3 linked regions of the Homo sapiens genome follow. The protein of the gene in region 2 interacts with the protein of the main gene of each other region in a biochemical or structural test. Each region holds a gene or a part of one and is shown on either strand. Other genes may lie near its edges.

Evidence for each region.
Region 1: the proteins of PLAT (region 2) and FN1 form a complex in vitro, tested with the Homo sapiens proteins (one study listed by BioGRID).
Region 3: the proteins of PLAT (region 2) and KRT8 form a complex in vitro, tested with the Homo sapiens proteins (one study listed by BioGRID).

The regions. Positions count from the first base shown.
Region 1 is NC_000002.12:215,370,058-215,373,713, forward strand, and holds part of FN1 (fibronectin isoform 1 precursor), read right to left. Parts: intron 3,355-3,656; coding exon 3,265-3,354; intron 2,319-3,264; coding exon 1,852-2,318; intron 376-1,851; coding exon 237-375; intron 1-236. UniProt on the Homo sapiens protein: Fibronectins bind cell surfaces and various compounds including collagen, fibrin, heparin, DNA, and actin. Fibronectins are involved in cell adhesion, cell motility, opsonization, wound healing, and maintenance of cell shape.
Region 2 is NC_000008.11:42,183,477-42,187,132, forward strand, and holds part of PLAT (tissue-type plasminogen activator isoform 1 preproprotein), read right to left. Parts: intron 1,697-3,656; coding exon 1,605-1,696; intron 1-1,604. UniProt on the Homo sapiens protein: Converts the abundant, but inactive, zymogen plasminogen to plasmin by hydrolyzing a single Arg-Val bond in plasminogen.
Region 3 is NC_000012.12:52,899,367-52,902,215, forward strand, and holds part of KRT8 (keratin, type II cytoskeletal 8), read right to left. Parts: intron 2,707-2,849; coding exon 2,498-2,706; intron 1,854-2,497; coding exon 1,793-1,853; intron 1,318-1,792; coding exon 1,222-1,317; intron 700-1,221; coding exon 409-699; intron 1-408. UniProt on the Homo sapiens protein: Together with KRT19, helps to link the contractile apparatus to dystrophin at the costameres of striated muscle.

The sequences.
Region 1 (3,656 bases), on a different chromosome or scaffold from region 2:
TATCACCATTTGAGAGTCTGTCAATTACGTATGCATTTTGTGAAGACAACAGGATATGGCAGGAGGTGGGGGAGAGATTAATTTAATATAAAGTTGCTCATTTATTTCATGTTGATGTGTTGCATTAAATCCCAAAGATAAAAAGACAATGGCAACAAAGGTACAGTCAACAGAAAAGCCCATCTCTGGTGTACAGCAGAGGGGAGCCTGTGTCTAAATAGTACGTGTTTACATACCAGAGTTGCCCACGGTAACAACCTCTTCCCGAACCTTATGCCTCTGCTGGTCTTTCAGTGCCTCCACTATGACGTTGTAGGTGGCACCTCTGGTGAGGCCTGTCAGAGTGGCACTGGTAGAAGTTCCAGGAACCCTGAACTGCAATTATCGGTACATCCAAAGCAGAGAGAAAGCATTATAGTGAGGAATGACACGGGCTCTCCTCTTACCAATAACCCTCACTGTTTAAACAAAGCAAAGGAAGACAAAAAACAAAAAACAAAAAAAAAAAAAAGAGGGAGGGTATAGTGGTCCTAACCAGCTGAGGAGAGAAATGGAACAAGGATAGGGGCCATCGTTCCTGCCAGATTTTCCTGCCAACAATCTACCTACGTGCTCCGTAGTTAACAGGAGCCCTCGACAATACTAGAGACGGCCTGCCATTGATCTTGCTTCAGTCGCAGGTCTGCATAAGCCCTCTGGAAGCCCTGGCCATGTTTGCTTCACATAAAACCTGGACACTGCGCTATATGGGAGACACGGTCATGCTCCTCCAGGTGACATCTGACCCCAGTGTGGAGTCCTTAAAACAGTTGGGCAAATCCTCAAACTCATGTTTCTAAGCTCATAAATTTCCTACAGTGTTGTCAGTTTTTAAATTCTGCCACTTTCTAAAAGTAACAACACAATAAAAATTGATACTGTCAGTGGGCCGGGTGTAGTGGGTGGCTCATGCTTGTAGTCCCAGCACTTTGGGAGGCCAAGGCGGGCGGATCACGAGGTCAGGAGATCGAGACCATCCTGGCCAACATCGTGAAACCCCGTCTCTACTAAAAATACAAAAATTAGCTGGGTGCGGTGGCACATGCCTGTAATCCCAGCTATTTGGGAGGCTGAGGCAGGAGAATTGCTTGAACCTGGGAGGCAGAGGTTGCAGTGAGCCGAGATCACGCCACTGCACTCCAGCCAGGGCCATAGAGCAAGACTCCATCTCGGGGAAAAAAAAAAATGGATACTGTCAACACAAATTAAATAATATACGTTTTAGAGAATCAATCACTTATCAGCTGCTATGCACAGCTTCGCCTGTTTTTTTTTTTCTTTAGATATGTTGTAGATAGTGGGGTTCTTCAAGGACAAATCGTAAAGGTAGTGTTTTAGACTTCTGCACACAAATGGAAATTCAGGTAGAATATCTTTCTTTTCTAGAATCATCTATCTTACTCAAAAAGGAACCTCAAATGTGTGAGAATAAGAGAAATAGTTTCATTTTCTCTATGAAATAAAAGCTAGTGACTCTCTGGTATGTCCTCCAAAGTAGAGCCATATTGGGATTTAAAAAAAAAAAAAAGCAGGGCTTAAATGTGCCATCTTCTAAGAGGTTCTAAAAGTGGAGCCACTTTTTTTTTTTTTTTTTTTTCAAGAGACGAGGTTTCACCATGTTGGCCAGGCTGGTCTTGAACTCCTAACCTCAAATGATCCACCTGCCTCGGCCTCCCAAAGTGCTGGGATTACAGGCGTGAGCCATCACACCCGGCCATGAAGCCACTTTTTATTCGAGGGCTGGTCACTTCAGTTACCTAACTTATTCCTTTCTGTGCTGCCCCATGAGAAGTGAAGAGAACAATTAATTACCTGTAAGGGTTCTTCATCAGTGCCAACAGGATGACATGAAATGATGTACTCAGAAGTGTCCTGGAATGGGGCCCATGAGATGGTTGTCTGAGAGAGAGCTTCTTGTCCTGTAGAGGCATTTGGATTGAGTCCCGGACCGTGTGGGTACAGGTGATAGTCTACATCTTCCCTGGGGATGTGACCAATTTGGATTTCCTCACCTACATTCGGCGGGTATGGTCTTGGCCTATGCCTTATGGGGGTGGCCGTTGTGGGCGGTGTGGTCCGCCTAAAACCATGTTCCTCAAAGATCATTTGTTGCCCAACACTGGGTTGCTGACCAGAAGTGCCAGGAAGCTGAATACCATTTCCAGTGTCATACCCAGGGTGGGTGACGAAAGGGGTCTTTTGAACTGTGGAAGGAACATCCAAGATCTCTGGTCCATGAAGATTGGGGTGTGGAAGGGTTACCAGTTGGGGAAGCTCGTCTAGCCGAGAGAGGTTAGAGCCAAAAAAGCAAAGCGCATTAAGCTCCAGGAAGTAGCAGCAATGATAATAATCGATTCAGGCAACAATGACTGTTCATCAATTTGATAAAAGCCACCAGAAAATGAGCAGTTCTGAGATCACAAAACACTTTTTCCAGAAAGAAATCTTTAGGATTTTTCTCAAAGGTTTCTTTATAGTTTAGAAAGAAAAAAGTGTTAGTATGAATTTATCATACACACAGCTTTAAACCGCTGAGCCCCGTAGAAGCTGCCTCTGCTCAAATTAGACCTAATGGAACTGAAATGTGCAGTCTTTCTCTTTCTCTCTTTCTTTTTTAAATTTGAGAAGCAAGTTGTAGGAAGTAGAATCCAGACTAATCATATCAGTGTCATAAGTATGAGAATTACAGAGGTTTGGCTCAACAGTTTTTCATGGTTTGAAATGGTAAAAATAGATAAAACACACATGTTCATTTTTGAAATTTTCCTATATCAGGAATACACATTTTCTTGAAATTAACTGAAACTGGATGCAAAAGTAAGACATTATTTAGCTCTAAGTTGTAGAAACCAAATAAAGATAAATGTGAGAGGTTTCTCTCCCTCCTTTAAAAAAGGAAACATTTTAAAATTCAACAGAAGGTATAAAAGAAGAGCAATGATAGCTCTTCTTTTACATTTTAACATCTTGTTTGAATTTTTAAAAGGTGAATAACAAGGCTTTATATTGAGTGGCTGTAGTAAAGAAAAAAAATAAAACCAAACTCTGCAGTGCATGTTAAATTATTTCTCCTATTAAAGAATACAATATATACACTATGCTGTTAGATAAAAAAAATCACAAGAAATGCATCAAAACATGGAGAACCTTTTCATATTGCAAGATTGCTCATTTGTTATTAGTTTTGTCCTATCTTTCTCCTTGTTACCTGCAAGATACTCTTACCTGTCTTTTTCCTTCCAATCAGGGGCTCGCTCTTCTGATTATTCTTCAGGGCAATGACATAAATTGTATATTCGGTTCCCGGTTCCAGGCCTGAAGGGAGAATAGAACCATCACATTATGTCAATGGGCTCAGCTAGTCAAGTGGAAGTCGGTCTCACCAGCAGACGCTACTGGGAGCAGGCACTTCCTCTCCAGCTGGCTGTTGGCCTCTTGAAGGTAAAATCGACTTCACTTTTCCTCCATAAACACCCAAATATCCTGCATATAAAGTCCGCATCGCAAACTAATTATCTTACTATCATATCTGACGCCTGAATAGACATTTTTTGGCTAACTTTTCCAGGGTATTCTTTTTTTTTTTTTTTTTTTTTTTTTTGAGATGGAGTCTGGCT
Region 2 (3,656 bases):
GCCAGTAGGGGTTTCCTTGTGTTACTTAACAGGCTGCAGTGAACCAACGTGCTTCAGTGGGGCTGGGGTGGGGGTTATTTCTCGGACTGTGTCTGCCAGTGTCCTGAGGATCTGATGATGGGCTTGGGAAGGAGGAGGGTATGAGCCGTGGAGTGCTGCCTGTTTTCATTTATTTCCCCCATTTTTCCATTTTTTTCTCCCGACCTGAAACTGACAAAGCATACCTCTATACATAAATACCATAAATGGAAGGGATTTTCAAGATTATCTAGATCTGCGAGTCCTCATTTAGACCAGACCATGGGGGATGGGGAGGATATTGTAGAGTGACTGTAAAGTCTTCAGAGTCACAGGCATCACCCGTGGACCTGGGTGCTGAATGCATATAGCTGGTGCGTGTTTATATATATCATATATAAATTTAATATATGTGTATTACATATATATATACACACACCCACACACATATTTATGTATTTATTTTGAGGCAGGATCTCACTGTCACCCAGGCTGGAGTGCAGTGGCACAATCATTGCTCACTGTGGCCTCAACCTCCTGGGCTCAAGCGATCCTCCCACCTGAGCCTCCCAAGCAGCTGGGACCATAGGCACAAGCCACCACACCTGACTAATTTTTGTATTTTTTGTAGAGATGGAGTCTCACTTTGTTGCCCAGGCTGGTCTCAAACTCCTGGGCTCAAGCAGTTCTCCCGCCTCAGCCTCCCAAAGTGCTGGGATTATAGACACGAGCCACTGCACCTGGCCCTATATATATTTAGAACTTAAAAAAAATCTTTCATAGTGCTGTGATAAATGTGATAAGTAACGTAATGATTTGTATAAGCACCACTGAATTCATAGTACCTTTCTGTAACTTAGCATTTCATTTTTTTCTTTTTTTTGAAACAGTTTTTTGTTCTATCACCCAGGCTGGAGTGCAGTGGCATGATCTCGGCTCACTGCAACCTCCATCTCCCAGGTTCAAGCAATTCTCCTGCCTCAGCCTCCTGAGTAGCTGGGATTACAGGTGCCTGCCACCGTATCCGGCTAATTTTTGTATTTTTAGTAGAGACAGGGTTTCACCATGTTGGCCAGGCTGGTCTCAAACTCCTGACCTCAGGTGAGCCGCCCGCCTCAGCCTCCCAGAGTGCTGGGTTTATAGGCATAAGCCACTGTGCCTGGTCTTGTAACTTAATATATATTTTTTCAATCTTGGAAGTTTTTTTTTTTTTTTTTTTGCATTAAAAAGTTTGAGAGGGAGCGAAAGAGAGACAAAGCCCCATTCACCCATTAATCAAAAAAGGGAGAATCTCCATTCATTCTCAAAAGGACTGAAAACCACTGATTCAGCCCCATCCTCTCCTCCATAGAGGAGGAAATTGAGGGTCAGAGTGTGAGGAGATCAGCTCCAGGTCAGACAAATAGCCAGTCAGAGGCCAAGCCCAGGCACAGACCTAAGTCCTGTCTTTCTTCCCTCTGCAACCAAAATGACTCACTCCTGGCCTCCCCCTTTCTCCCCTCAGGTGCAGGAGGGCTATCGGCCTGTCCTCCTGGACTTTCCTCCCCCAGGGACATTCAGGGAAAGGCGGGGTGGCTGCCACTTACCCTCAGAGCAGGCAGGGGTGCTGCAGAACTCTGAGCTGTACTTCCCCGCCTTAAAGACGTAGCACCAGGGCTTTGAGTCTCGATCTGGGTTTCTGAAAAATCAGCCAAGGGAAGGGCCAGGGTAGGTCAAAGGTGAAGCCTCTCCTTTAGGACCCAAGGACTTTGGTATCCTTTTCTGGAGGAATGGGGGGTGCTTTTTTTTTTGACAGAGTCTCGCTGTTTATCCCAGGCTGGAGTGCAGCGGCGCATCTCCTCTCACTGCAACCTCCGTTTCCTGGATTTGGGCAATTCTTCAGCCTCAGCTTCCCGAGTAGCTGGGATTACAGGTGCCTGCCACCATGCCTGGCTAATTTTTGTATTTTTAGTAGAGACAGGGTTTCACCATGTTGGCCAGGCTGGTCTTGAACTCCTGACCTCAGGTGATCCACCTGCCTTGGCTTCCCAAAGTGCTGGGATTACAGGCGTGAGCCACCACGCCCAGCCGGGAGTGCGTTTTTGGTTGTACACTGGTAGTTCTATCATGTTAGGCAGGAGTATGATTTTGTTCCTGTGTTTACTTGGAGGTGAAGGATGGTTTAAGGAGATGCACATGGGTGCCAAATTGACAAGGTGTGGACTGGAATAGTCTTATATGTCAACTTGGCCAGGCTGTGGCACCCAGTCAGTTAACCAAACATTCATCTAGGAGTTGTGAAAGTGTTTTATAGATGTGGTTAATATCTACAGCCAGTTGACTTTAGAAAAGGAAATTGTCCTAGATAATGTAGTTGGGCCTCGTCCAATCACTTAAAGGCCTTAAGAGCAAATATGAGGTTTCCTGAATAAGAAATTCTGCCTTAAGAGAGCAGCCTCAGCTTCTGCCTGCACTTCCAGCCTGGCTTACCAAGATGTTTCGGACTTGCCAGCCCCCACGATCCTGTCAGCCAGTTCCTTAACATAAATGTCTATCTATCTAGTGTGAAAGGAAAATAAATCTCAGGACCCCAACGTCATGAGCCAAGGGAAATGTCAAGCCGGGAACTACGTCAGGCAAACCTGCCTCTCATTTATTCCTCAATAAGATAGCTGCAAAGTTTTTTTTTTTTTTTTTTAATTCTCTACAAGGACATTCCTTGCAGGCCTAAAGATCTTTACCCTAAAACAGTTCTGTTGACTTTCACCTTGGCATTGTAAATGGATAGCTTATCTTCCCAGGTGCAGGACAGAAAATCATCCCTCTGCTCATCTGAGACAAATGCGTATCTGATTGCTTCCTCTGCCCTATTTTTTATGTAAAAATGCAGATGAACTGAGCCAGACTCAATTGTGTGTTCAGTGAAAAGCTGATCAAGGACTCAGAATACAGCCTTTTGTCTCTTATCTACCTATGGCCTGGAAGCCCTTGCTTCGAGTTATCCCAACTTTCCCGACCAAACCGATGTACATCTCACACATGTTGATTGATGTCTCATGACTCCCTAAAACGTCTAAAGGCAAGCTGTGCCCTGACAACCTTGGGCACATGTCCTCAGGACCTCCTGAGGCTGTGTCACGGGGGTGTCCTTAACCTTGGCAAAATCAACTTTCTAAATCGATTGAGACCTGTCTCAGATACTTTGGGTTCACACACATTCTCTCTCTCTCTCTATTTCTCTCTCCTCTTTCTCTATCTCTATCTCTCTATCATCTATCAATCTGTCTATCATCTATCTATCTATCATCTATCATCTTACATCTACTATCACCTATGTATCTATCATCTATCAATCTTCTATCATCTATCAATCTATCTATCACCTATCATCTATCATCTATCATCTATTTATCATTATCATCTATGTATCATCTATTTAATCATCTATCAATCATCTATCATCTGTCAATCTGTCTATCATCTATGTGTCTATCATCTATGTATCTATCATCTATCTTTCTAATCATCTGTCTATCATCTACCACCTATCATCTATCATCTATCCATCTATCATCTATCTACCATCTATCATCTATGTATCTATCATCTATTTATCTATCAATCATCTATCAATCTATCATCTATCTATCACCTATCAT
Region 3 (2,849 bases), on a different chromosome or scaffold from region 2:
AGCAGTTTCCAGGTGCTTCCCCTCCACACCCTTCTCACCTGCGACACTGTAAGGTCCCCCTACCCTAACTGGACTAGATCCCTGGGTTCTAGACTTTCCTTAAAGCAGCAGAGCTCAACCTTACCCTGATGCATATGACTGATTAAAGCAGGCTTGGGAGCATGTATCACGAGCCCCAACATACCTGCCCCAGTCCCCTTTCACCTCTGTCCTGGCCCAAGGGACCTTCCCTGCATCCCTTTGCTTCTCAGAAGCAGACTGAGAAGCTGAACTGTGGCTGCCCCTCCAACTCCTGAACCCTGGTCTAGGATTCCTTCCCCGACTCCCAGAAACTTCACTCTTCCTACATTATCTCCTCTCACCAGGATGTGTCCAAGGAACCCCTCCCACCCCCAACCCGGCCCATACCTGGCCTTTGAGGCCCTCAATCTCAGCCTGGAGCCGGCTGATGTTCCGGTTCATCTCAGAGATCTCAGTCTTTGTGCGCCGCAGGTCATCCCCGTGCTTCCCAGCCAGGCTCTGCAGCTCCTCATACTTGATCTGGTACATGCTCTCAGCCTCAGCCCGGCTGCGGTTGGCAATATCCTCGTACTGTGCCTTGACCTCAGCAATGATGCTGTCCATGTCCAGGGAGCGGCTGTTGTCCATGGACAGCACCACAGATGTGTCCGAGATCTGGGACTGCAGCTCCCGGATCTCCTGTGGGGGAAGAGGGCAAGTGGTGAGGCCCTGTCTCTGCACACAGGGAGCCCCCTTTTCCACAACAGCCTTTCTTAGGGTATAAGACAGGGGCAGCAGAGGAGAGGAGCAGGTGGGAGTCAGGGTCAGGGAGAGGGCAAAGTTCCTGAAAAAGGAACTGGGTGCACCAATACTAGGTGCACAGAGGGATCCAATGCAGCTCAAAGATTAGGAACAAGGGCTTTGGGGACAGAGTTGCTGCTGAATCACCACACCCTATGATGACCTTGGATACGTTATTTCACTTCTCTGAGCCCACTTTCTCGTCTGTGAAATGGGGTAATGACTCATCCCTCATGCGAGGGACAGAACATATAGACCCAATAAATACTAGCCGAGCAAATATTGGTGGCTGTAATTAGTCAGCAGTGGGCCTTTGTCTTATTAGTGTGCTGGGGGCTGGGAGGAGCCTCTGGTTGAGTCTCAGGGTGGAGGCGCTGACAAGGCTGGGGGACCCTCACTCTCCTGCGACCAGGAACATACCTCTTCATATAGCTGCCTGAGGAAGTTGATCTCGTCGGTCAGCCCTTCCAGGCGAGACTCCAGCTCTACCTTGTTCATGTAAGCTTCATCCACATCCTGGGGGATGAGGAGAGGGGAGCCTGAGCTGGGTTTCCACACCCAACCCCAACCAAGGGGCTCCCAAGGTCCACCCAATGGCCTGGTCACAGGACTTTCTAGTTGCCCACTTTGTGGATTGATCTTCCAGCCCAGCCTCTGCCCATCACATGTGCATTCTCAGCCCACACACCTTCACCTCTGCTTCCTGCAACACACCCTCTTCCACCTCCTTCTCTAGGGAGCCTTCTAGAGCCAGATCTCCAGTTCTACTGCTCTGTTTTCTGAACCATGTCCCAACACCGATGTCAAGAGTTCTGTCCAAATGCACCTACCACTCCATCCTTGTCTACCTTTCTGTGCACCCAAATGTTTACATAAATGAGTTTGTCCCACTACTTAGGAATATTTAGGGACAAAACCCAGAAAGCTTCTTGGTCTGAGTCTCTGAGCCCCAGCCTCCAGTGTCCAGATAGGAGAAGGGAGACTCCCTCACCTTCTTGATGAGGACAAATTCGTTCTCCATCTCTGTACGCTTATTGATCTCATCCTCATACCTGTGAGGAAAAGACTTACAATTAGAGGATGAAGGCAAAAGGGAGGTTGCCCTTGGTCTTTTGGGAGACAGGGGCGTTGTGAAAATCAGGAAAATTCAGTTCACAGAGATGCAGGATATGAGAAGGCTGGTCCTTCTGCCTTCCCCAGCTGCCCTCTCCACCCTCACCCCTCCCTTAGCCCGTGGGAAGCAGGAAATCTCTCTCCAAATCCATGAATACACATCGGATTGGACACCTTGAGAGTGTTAACAGCAGGGCCTGACATGAGACCTCAGACAGAACTTTCTAGAGTTTGCTAGAGGTCAAGGGTCAAGACTAAAGAGGGGCCAGAATGTTAAGTACAAAAGTGAGGCCCACAGGCTGCCTATCTCTCCCGTCTCAGGTTTACCATGTCAACATTGACACATAATTTGTTCTTCAAATCCAGACAGTTGAGATTGAAAGGGGGTGGGTACTATCAACAATTGTGCTAGGAACCTGGGCATAAACACAGACTGTTCCGAGCAAACCTCATCAGGTGGTCACCCTAATTAGATAGGACTGCACTTCCCACAACAGAGGGCCATGGGGACTTAGTCCCAAGGTCCCAAGGGGTGGAGGAGAGCACGGTGACTTCAGTTGGGTGGAGGGTGGGAGTTGCTCACTTGTTCTTGAAGTCCTCCACCAGCCCCTGCATGTTGCCAAGCTCCGCCTCCAGCTTCAGCTTCTCCTGGCCCAGAGTCTCCAGCTGCCGCCTAAGGTTGTTGATGTAGCTCTCGAACATGTTGTCCATGTTGCTTCGAGCCGTCTTCTGCTGCTGCAGGAGGCTCCACTTGGTCTCCAGCATCTTGTTCTGCTGCTCCAGGAACCGTACCTATACGAAGGAGGAGAGAGCAAAAAGGTCTACATCAGGCCAGGGCTCAAAGTCTGGAGGAAAGCAAGCAGTCTTTTCTCTTAATTCACTCCTCAAGCAGTAAGGTCTCCAGACCCCAGGCACCTGGTTAGCTGTTCTGGAAA